2 linked regions of the Homo sapiens genome follow. The protein of the gene in region 2 purifies or fractionates together with the protein of the main gene of each other region. This does not show direct contact. Each region holds a gene or a part of one and is shown on either strand. Other genes may lie near its edges.

Region 1 (3,814 bases), on a different chromosome or scaffold from region 2:
GAGAACAGCCAGAGCAAAAGAAACAGCCTCGAATCCAAGTACAAAGCTGTTGGCTCTCCTGGGCCTCAGCCACAATGCAGCACCTGAGACATGCCCAGGCATTAGAGACACCTCAACAGCTAGGTCCATGGACAAACCCTCATCTTCCCTGACCTGCTTCTCCCACAGGGCCTCAGATTCAGTAGCCTGCTGTCCACCCCAACCCCCCGCCAGCTGATCCAGGAGCTGGGGAGCCGTCTAACAACACCCTGCAACAGCCTTCACCTTCAGAAGTTCCCAGCATCTATGTGTGTGATGAGAATCACATGCGGTAACCTCTGTGCCTCCAAAGTCATTCCACTGAACTGCTACCCAGGAATGCCACCCCCCAACAACCATCCCCAGGGCTGAGATGAGCCAGACAGACCCTGGAGAAGACCCTCTGTGGACAGCGAGTCTACAGGGCAAGAGGAGTGATGTCTAGCCCCAGAACCGTCCCAAGAGGAGGTGAGGCAGGGCTGAAAGCCCCTGCTGTTCCCAAACCCCACTCCCAGCCAAAGCTAGGCCACATGGAGAAGCCCACGGAGCAGAGGTAATCCCAGAAGACAGCATGGACAGTGGCTTCAGGCTCAGGTTGCAGAGCCAACATGGCAGGGCCTCTCCAACTCCAGCTCAGCCACTCACCATCTTTGTGGTATGGGCCATGTCATTTATCCTCCCTGGACCTCAGTTTCCTCATCTGTAAGTGGGTTTAATAACACTTATCCTATCAGGTGGTTGAGAGAACCAAATGAGTTGAGGTCCATGTGCCCCAGCAAGTGCCTGGCACAGAGGAGGTCATGGGGTGAGCCCACCCCAGCTGTTAGGTTTGGGGCAGAGCTGAGCACAGCACCCATCTCTGTGGATCCACAAAATCTGCATTTTTGTCACATATCTAGAGAGGTCCACATTCAGTGCTTCTCTAGAAAACCGGGAACTACTTATGATTTATTCATCCCCTGGATAATCTGGGGCCTCTCCACTCCTCCTTCAGTCAGGCTCCCCAGAGCACTCTCCCTAAAAAAGATGCACCACAACCCAGGATGGGAAGGAGAGGAGCCCAGCAGGCTGGAAGCCGGGCAAACCCCCCAGTCAGACTCCCTCTCCCCCCACCCACCTCTGGGGTGTTTGCCCACCTTCCTTTATGTTTCACCACCTGAGTGTGTTCCCAGGCAATATAGTGTTGCATTTGGAAATCCCATAGCAATGCTCCTTAACTGGGTACAGAAGGAGCCCATTGCTGCTATTGGAGGGAGGTTCCCAGGAGAGGACACGCTCTGGTTGCCCCGAGGGGCAATGAGACTCCTCCCCAGGGAAGGCCACAGGCAGGCCATGGGCGAGTTTGGGGAATAGGGTCTTCCCAGCCATGACTCGACTCCTGATGGGGTCGTCATGTGGACCAGTCCTATTGAGGGGAGCAAGCCACCTCTCCTCTAAGCTCACCAAGGCCCACCCTGCTTCAGTGGGGACCAAAGCAGAATGAACATTCAGGGGAAAGAAAGGAGTGTCCTTCATTCTTGACTGAGCTGGGCTGCAGGGCATGGGCAGGCAGTCACCATGTCAGGTAAGCATCAAGTGCCCTCCACCTGGGCCAGGCTGCCTCCACCCAGGGTGTACTGCCACGCTGGGGCACCGCCCTCCCTGGGGCTTCCCTCTCCTGCCTTGGCTCCGCTCCCCAAATCTCATAGCTTCTTTTGTCGTGGTTTGCTCCACACCTTGGCGCACAGCCGCCAGAGCTTGAGAAAGGTATGTGGGAATCAGATGCTGGAGGTGCCACACGTCTGACAGTATTTTCGTTTCTCCCTAATTAGTGGACAAATTGGCGGGAAATAGCACACTAGCTGAGAAATCACAGTCCGAAATTCTCAGGTCCTTGCATCCCACAGTCCTCGGTTTCCAGGGCTGCGGTGGGGGAGCCTGAAGGCCTCTGATCCCCTCATCTCCAACCTAGAGCTCATTTTTTTCCTCCTTCTGGATAGGTGTAGAAGTTTTCCTTTGTTTCCACAGCTCTGATATTCCAGGGTCCATGTGGGACATTTTCCTCCCTCGTGCTAGTACCGGGCAAGCCCTCACCGGCTGCAAGCTCATGCCCTCAGCCCCTGGCAAGGGCCCTTTATCCTTCCATTCTCCTGTTCTCTTTCTAGAATTCCTACTATCTTGGTGTTACGCCTGGACTGACCACTGACCTCCTGATCATCTTCTCTGTCTCTCTCTCCTATTCCTGGGAGATTTCCTCAACATCTCCCTTCCAACCTTTCTATTCCATTTCACTTCTATTGCATCTTCCATTTCTAAACCTCTTTCTTTGTTCTCATTCATCACATGAGAGATAGTTGTTGCCCTCTGAAGATATCAGTCGTGACGTTTGCAGTTTTCTTCTTGGTGCATGGCCCCCGGGTTTGCTTGGTTCCATCTCTCTGGTCTCTGTCCTTCAGGGTCAGAGCCTTAGGTCAGATTTCCAGGGACCCTGCTTGGAAGTGACTCGTGACTGGGAGTGGGGACTGAGAGCTGATGAGACACTGGGACCCTGCAGAAGAGCTTGTCCCCAGAGCTTCCAGGGGTTGGGGGGGTCACTGCTTCTAGGTCCTTCCTCTTGGCTGGTCTCACTCCTCAGAAAGGACAGCTCCAATCCTACCCTAGACCACCCTCCTGGACCCAGTGGCAAAAGATAATGCGTATCAGCCGCTCTCTCCAGCCTCCCTCTCTGGGACACTGTGCCACGTTCTCAATTACATGGGAAGGCCCAGAAACCCTGGTGTCACCAGCTCCAAGAATACACCTCCAGTGTCCAGCTGGGGTGGAGGAGGGCTCTGGACACCTCACTGCTTCTCAGCTACTCTTGCCACTCTCTTGGGAGCTGGTGCTGCCGGCCGGGTCGTGGGAGGGCTCCGCAATGTCAACCTGGCTGTTCCCAGCTCCCCTTTTCCAGCATCAGGTCTGACTTCACCAAGGGCACTCAGTCAGTGGCTCTTGCCCACTCACTCACTGGCTCCTAAATGCCCATCGGGTTGCCTCCACTCCTGTCCTCCCAATCCACGGCTGGACATCTCTATTTAGTCTCTTTACCAAGGCTTTAGCGGGTTACAGAGAGGAGCAAGACCAGAAGCTACGAAGCTATGACCTCCTCTTCCCTGACTCCACCCCCACCAGTGGGTCCATTCCAGGCCTGTGTCCAGGCTCACTGAGGACCAGGAGGAGCCTGCAAAACCCCTTCCTGAATCCCAGCACCCCTTCCCAGCAGACTCAGAATTCCATTCCACTTGGTTCAGCAAGCAGTTCCCCCACAGAGTGGGGCTGCAGATGTGACAGCCTCAAGAAGCCCCCATCTGCTGGGCCACTAGAATGGCCAGGGCCGGGGAGGCTTCCTGGGGCAGGGCCATGGTCAGTGTCTCTACGGAAGACAGGGGCTGGGGTGCTAACATGCAAAAGCATGAGGCCAGCACATTTAGGGTCTGGCAGCAGCCACCAGGGGGTGGCACAAGACTGCAAAGCCAGAGGTGGAGTGGGGTGGGGCAGAGGACTGTGAGGCCATGAGCAATTTCCAAGGAGGTAAGGAGATGAAAAGCTTGGGAAGCTTCTAGAACAAGGGGACCTCCCTTCACTATGAGGTGTTGTCCACAATTACACCTGATATAAACCATTGGAACCCAATTCCTCTAAGTCCTCTGACCACTGAGGACAGACCCAGCCATGACTGGTGCTGTAAGAAAGACACATGACAATGTCCACCCAGCTCCAGCTGTAAGGAGAGGTGGAGCACCCTCCAGGCAAGGCATCCCCCAGGCCAGGGCACCCC
Region 2 (3,814 bases):
TCTACCCTCACCTTGCAGTGACCTGTAGCTGTTTGCTCACATGCTCCCTTTGTTAATGGGCCTGTTGTGTGCTCTTCTGTAAGATTTCGAAGGGTGGTGACTGTGGCTCCTGCATCTGCATCAACATATTCCAGCACAGGGATTAGCGTACCAGAGATGTCAAACAAATATTTGCTAAACAAATGACAAAGAGTTCAAGACTGCCAATTCTTTCCCCTAAATCTAGGCCTAATGTTTCATGTGCAGCAATAAAGAGAGCTTCATAGTATTTTAAACGAGGCTTGACTTTGTGATCATATTCATCTGAACTCTGTTCACAAGATGAAAACTCTTCATCATCAATTTCATAATGGGGTCATGGAAATTCTCAAATCTCCCTGGCTTCAGAAAGGATAGAATAATTTAACAAACCAAGACCAAGGACCTGAGTTGAAGCTTATTCACCTAAGACCCTCATCAAACCTCCATAAAATGGGCTAGCAGTAGAGGGCTCTACTCCCTCCATCCCCCTCAGAGGATAGCAATGTGTCCATGGGTAGTGGACTACAGAGGTGCTCAAAGCAAAGGACTGACCCCTGTAGCCCCACTAGGAGCACATCACAGGAGACAATCCTCAAGTCAAAGTCACATCAGCCACCTTTCCCTTTGGGACTGAGGCCTAGCTTCTTTCCAAAGAGCTGTTTTGGTCAATTTCCCAGAAATTCTTCAAGTTGCGTGTTAAGTAGACACCACAGGGTGAGAGGACCCAGTAGGCTGGAGAAGGTGAAGTACTGAAAATAGGGGCAGGTGTCTGTCTACCTTGGGCTTCTGAGAATCAGATCGAAAGAGGACAGGACTATACTATAATGAAAAAGCAGGCCATCACAAACAGCTAACCACTACCTAACGAAATTTTCCATACCACTGCCAACTCCAAGAACCACCCAGGGGCATTATTTGCAGGCTTTTTTCTGAGGAACTGAGATACAAACAGTACCACTGCAAAGCTTTATACACTTCCTCCTTCCTTGGAGTAAAGCAAACTTTAATTAGGCCAAGAGGATGTGCAGAGCTATAATTAAAACCTAGCTACAAGCTCTTTTCTCCATATGAGATAAAGTCAATAACCCTGATGGTTTCATGCACCTTTTCAATGAAAGAAAAAAATGTAGGTGAGTTTCACACCTGGTTCTGGATGACATAATTCATGGAGTGAATCTTTTTTCTTTGAGACAGGGCCTGGCTGTGTTGCTCAGGCTGGTGTGCAGTGGCACAATCTCAGCTCACTGCAACCTCCACTTCCTGGGCTCAAGCCATCCTCCTACCTCAGCCTCCCAAGTAGCTGAGACTACAGGTGCACGCTGTCATGCCCGGCTAATTTTTATATTTTTGTTGTAAAGATGGGGTTTCACCATGTTGCGCAGGCTGGTCTTAAACTCCTGAGCTCCAGTGATCTGCTTGCCTTGGCCACCCAAAGTGCTGGGATTCCAGGTGTGAGCCCCTGCACCCAGCCAGGAGTGAATCATTTTTAACGGTGAGTTGACTTTTCCCATCTAATAACACATTTAACCACAAACAACTTGTAACCTTTAGCATAATAACCATTTCCATGGCACTTTCTGGAATGCTACTGAAACATCTCAGGAAACAAGGTCACTGGAAACACTTAAAGAAAAAGGAGGAAAACATCATCTTGGGTGGCCCTTATCAGCCATTAACATCAGCATCCCAAGATGTCAGAGCAACAAGATAACCCCTTTCCAAAGAAGACTGGCTGCTTCTGGTGATAAGAGCTTGATGAAGCTGCATGTTTACTACCTCCTATGCAGAAATGGGGTAAAAAGTAATGAAAAATAGACTATCCATACTCAAGTTCAACTACATCACAGGACCTAAGGTGCTTTTCTAAGCAAAATCTCCAAGAATACGTAGGGTTGACCCTCTTCATAGCTTTGTTTCTGTGTGAGTCCTCAACTGTGTATTTTTTAGATCTGGTACAAGCTCGTATTTTTAATGAGAAAACAGGGAATGAGAAGTGATAAGGATGGCCCAGGTCTTGGTACCACTGGGATTAGCACAAAGGAATCCTGACTCTCAGTCCAAATGCACCTCAAACAGCAGTTCCAAGCATCTTTGCCCTTCTTCATCTGTTTTTGAATTCTTAGTAAGAACATGGTAGGGATACTCTGTCCATGAAGAATTCTGTGGAAAAGCAGACCTTTAACTGCATCTTTTTCTTCCGCAGATGTTTGGTTTAAAATTAACCATGAACTACTCAAAATTGAAAGTACCTATTTCCTCTAGGGTTTAGTTGGCCAATTTTCGCAGTGCTATTAGGGAGTGCCAGGTCAAAGCATGTGGTTTTTACATTTCAAATCTTTCATGTCCAGAGCATAAGGATGCCCATTAAGATAATTTCACACCCATGACCTCCACAGGTGTTTTTTTTTTTTCCTTCTCCTTGTGAACAGGAATACCCCTGGGTTATAGCTGAACGTAACACTCTTGGCTAAGTTAAAAAAGACAGGTTCTGTACACTTGAGAAGTCTTTAAAACAAAACACAAAGAAACAGCCTGTCCTCAATCCAAACTGAAACAGGTATGTCTGGCATTTTCCCTGAATCCTCAAGCCCTGCCCTCTTATGCTAGCAGTTCTCCCTGTTCAGGCCTCCCAGAACTTTCCCTCTGTAGAAAGCAGATGGTAAGAGTGCAATAAGCATTAGATTAGTTAGCCCAATACCTGACATAAGGTAGGCACTATCTGTCTTTGCTATGATCTTAGGCAAATGTTAAGTACTTTTGCTTCCAACTAGGGCTAAGGTGGTGCTGGATGTCCCAGCCAAAGTATAATTTGTGTCATTTAAAGGAAGGTCTCCAGCCTACCCACTGACGCCTGCTTTGCAGAGTTAAGTCCACTTTAGTTGAGGATCTGTAGAGTGATGTGCTCCTAGCTACACCAGCTGCAGAGCCAAGCTCTCCAGGTGTTGCAGGGGCAAGTTTAGAGGAGTGAGGCCTGGCTCTGGACAAGCCAGAAGGCTTCCTCTCTGTAGAAAGTATTCCCTTCCCCTCCCCTGGGTGTGGGTGAGGAATGAAGGATGTTTGAGCTGCATCCTTCTCTCCATTCTCCCTACCGTGAGGCATTCTCTCAGGGCAGTGTCAGATACACTAGGGACAACTAACTGTTTCCTTTCAGGCCCTGAGAGAAGTTTCTTTCTCAGCAAGGAATTTTAGTTGTAAGGAAACTAAGAGTGAAAAGTATTCTAGGCAATGATCAGGCATTTCTTGTAAGTACTAATTTCACCAGATGTTTCAACTGCTCTATACCTCTGCTAAATGGGAAAAAGAACAGCAAATAGCCTTTTCAAAGTATTTTGGTAAACAAAGTTATTTTTCAAATAAAATTCAATAATCAATTGCCAGGTTGCTTAAGTGTTTTTCCAAATCCTATTTTCCCACAATAACGTATCTATTTTAGGAAAGCCTGAAGGGAAAGAAAAACAACCAGTTTAGAATATTATGTTTCCAAAGCAACTGCTCTGTGGTTCCATCAGATGGCCTTCAAACCCAGAGCCTGGGGAGATGCTTTCACAGCCCACAATTACAGAGGTTAGAAAGCACAAACAAAGCATTCAGTCACCAAATGCTCAACTTCTTTCATCTTTCCAATAAAAAAGCATCACAAATTTTCAAAACAAATTCAAAGGAAAAAAAACTGACTTCTGGTTCTAGCAACGTGGCAAACTGAACAAAAGCAGAACCAACTCTCTCACTATAAACACAGGTAGGAAAGTGGTATAAAACACAGCAAAAACTCCAACACAATCAATTCTTACCT

What was found.
Region 1: the proteins of ELOVL5 (region 2) and RAMP3 purify together in Homo sapiens (co-immunoprecipitation; one large-scale study listed by IntAct). This does not show direct contact.

Annotation. Positions count from the first base shown.
Region 1 is NC_000007.14:45,178,050-45,181,863, reverse strand, and holds part of RAMP3 (receptor activity-modifying protein 3 precursor), read right to left. Parts: intron 1-3,814. UniProt on the Homo sapiens protein: Accessory protein that interacts with and modulates the function of G-protein coupled receptors including calcitonin gene-related peptide type 1 receptor (CALCRL), calcitonin receptor (CALCR) and G-protein coupled estrogen receptor 1 (GPER1).
Region 2 is NC_000006.12:53,279,403-53,283,216, forward strand, and holds part of ELOVL5 (very long chain fatty acid elongase 5), read right to left. Parts: intron 1-3,814. UniProt on the Homo sapiens protein: Catalyzes the first and rate-limiting reaction of the four reactions that constitute the long-chain fatty acids elongation cycle.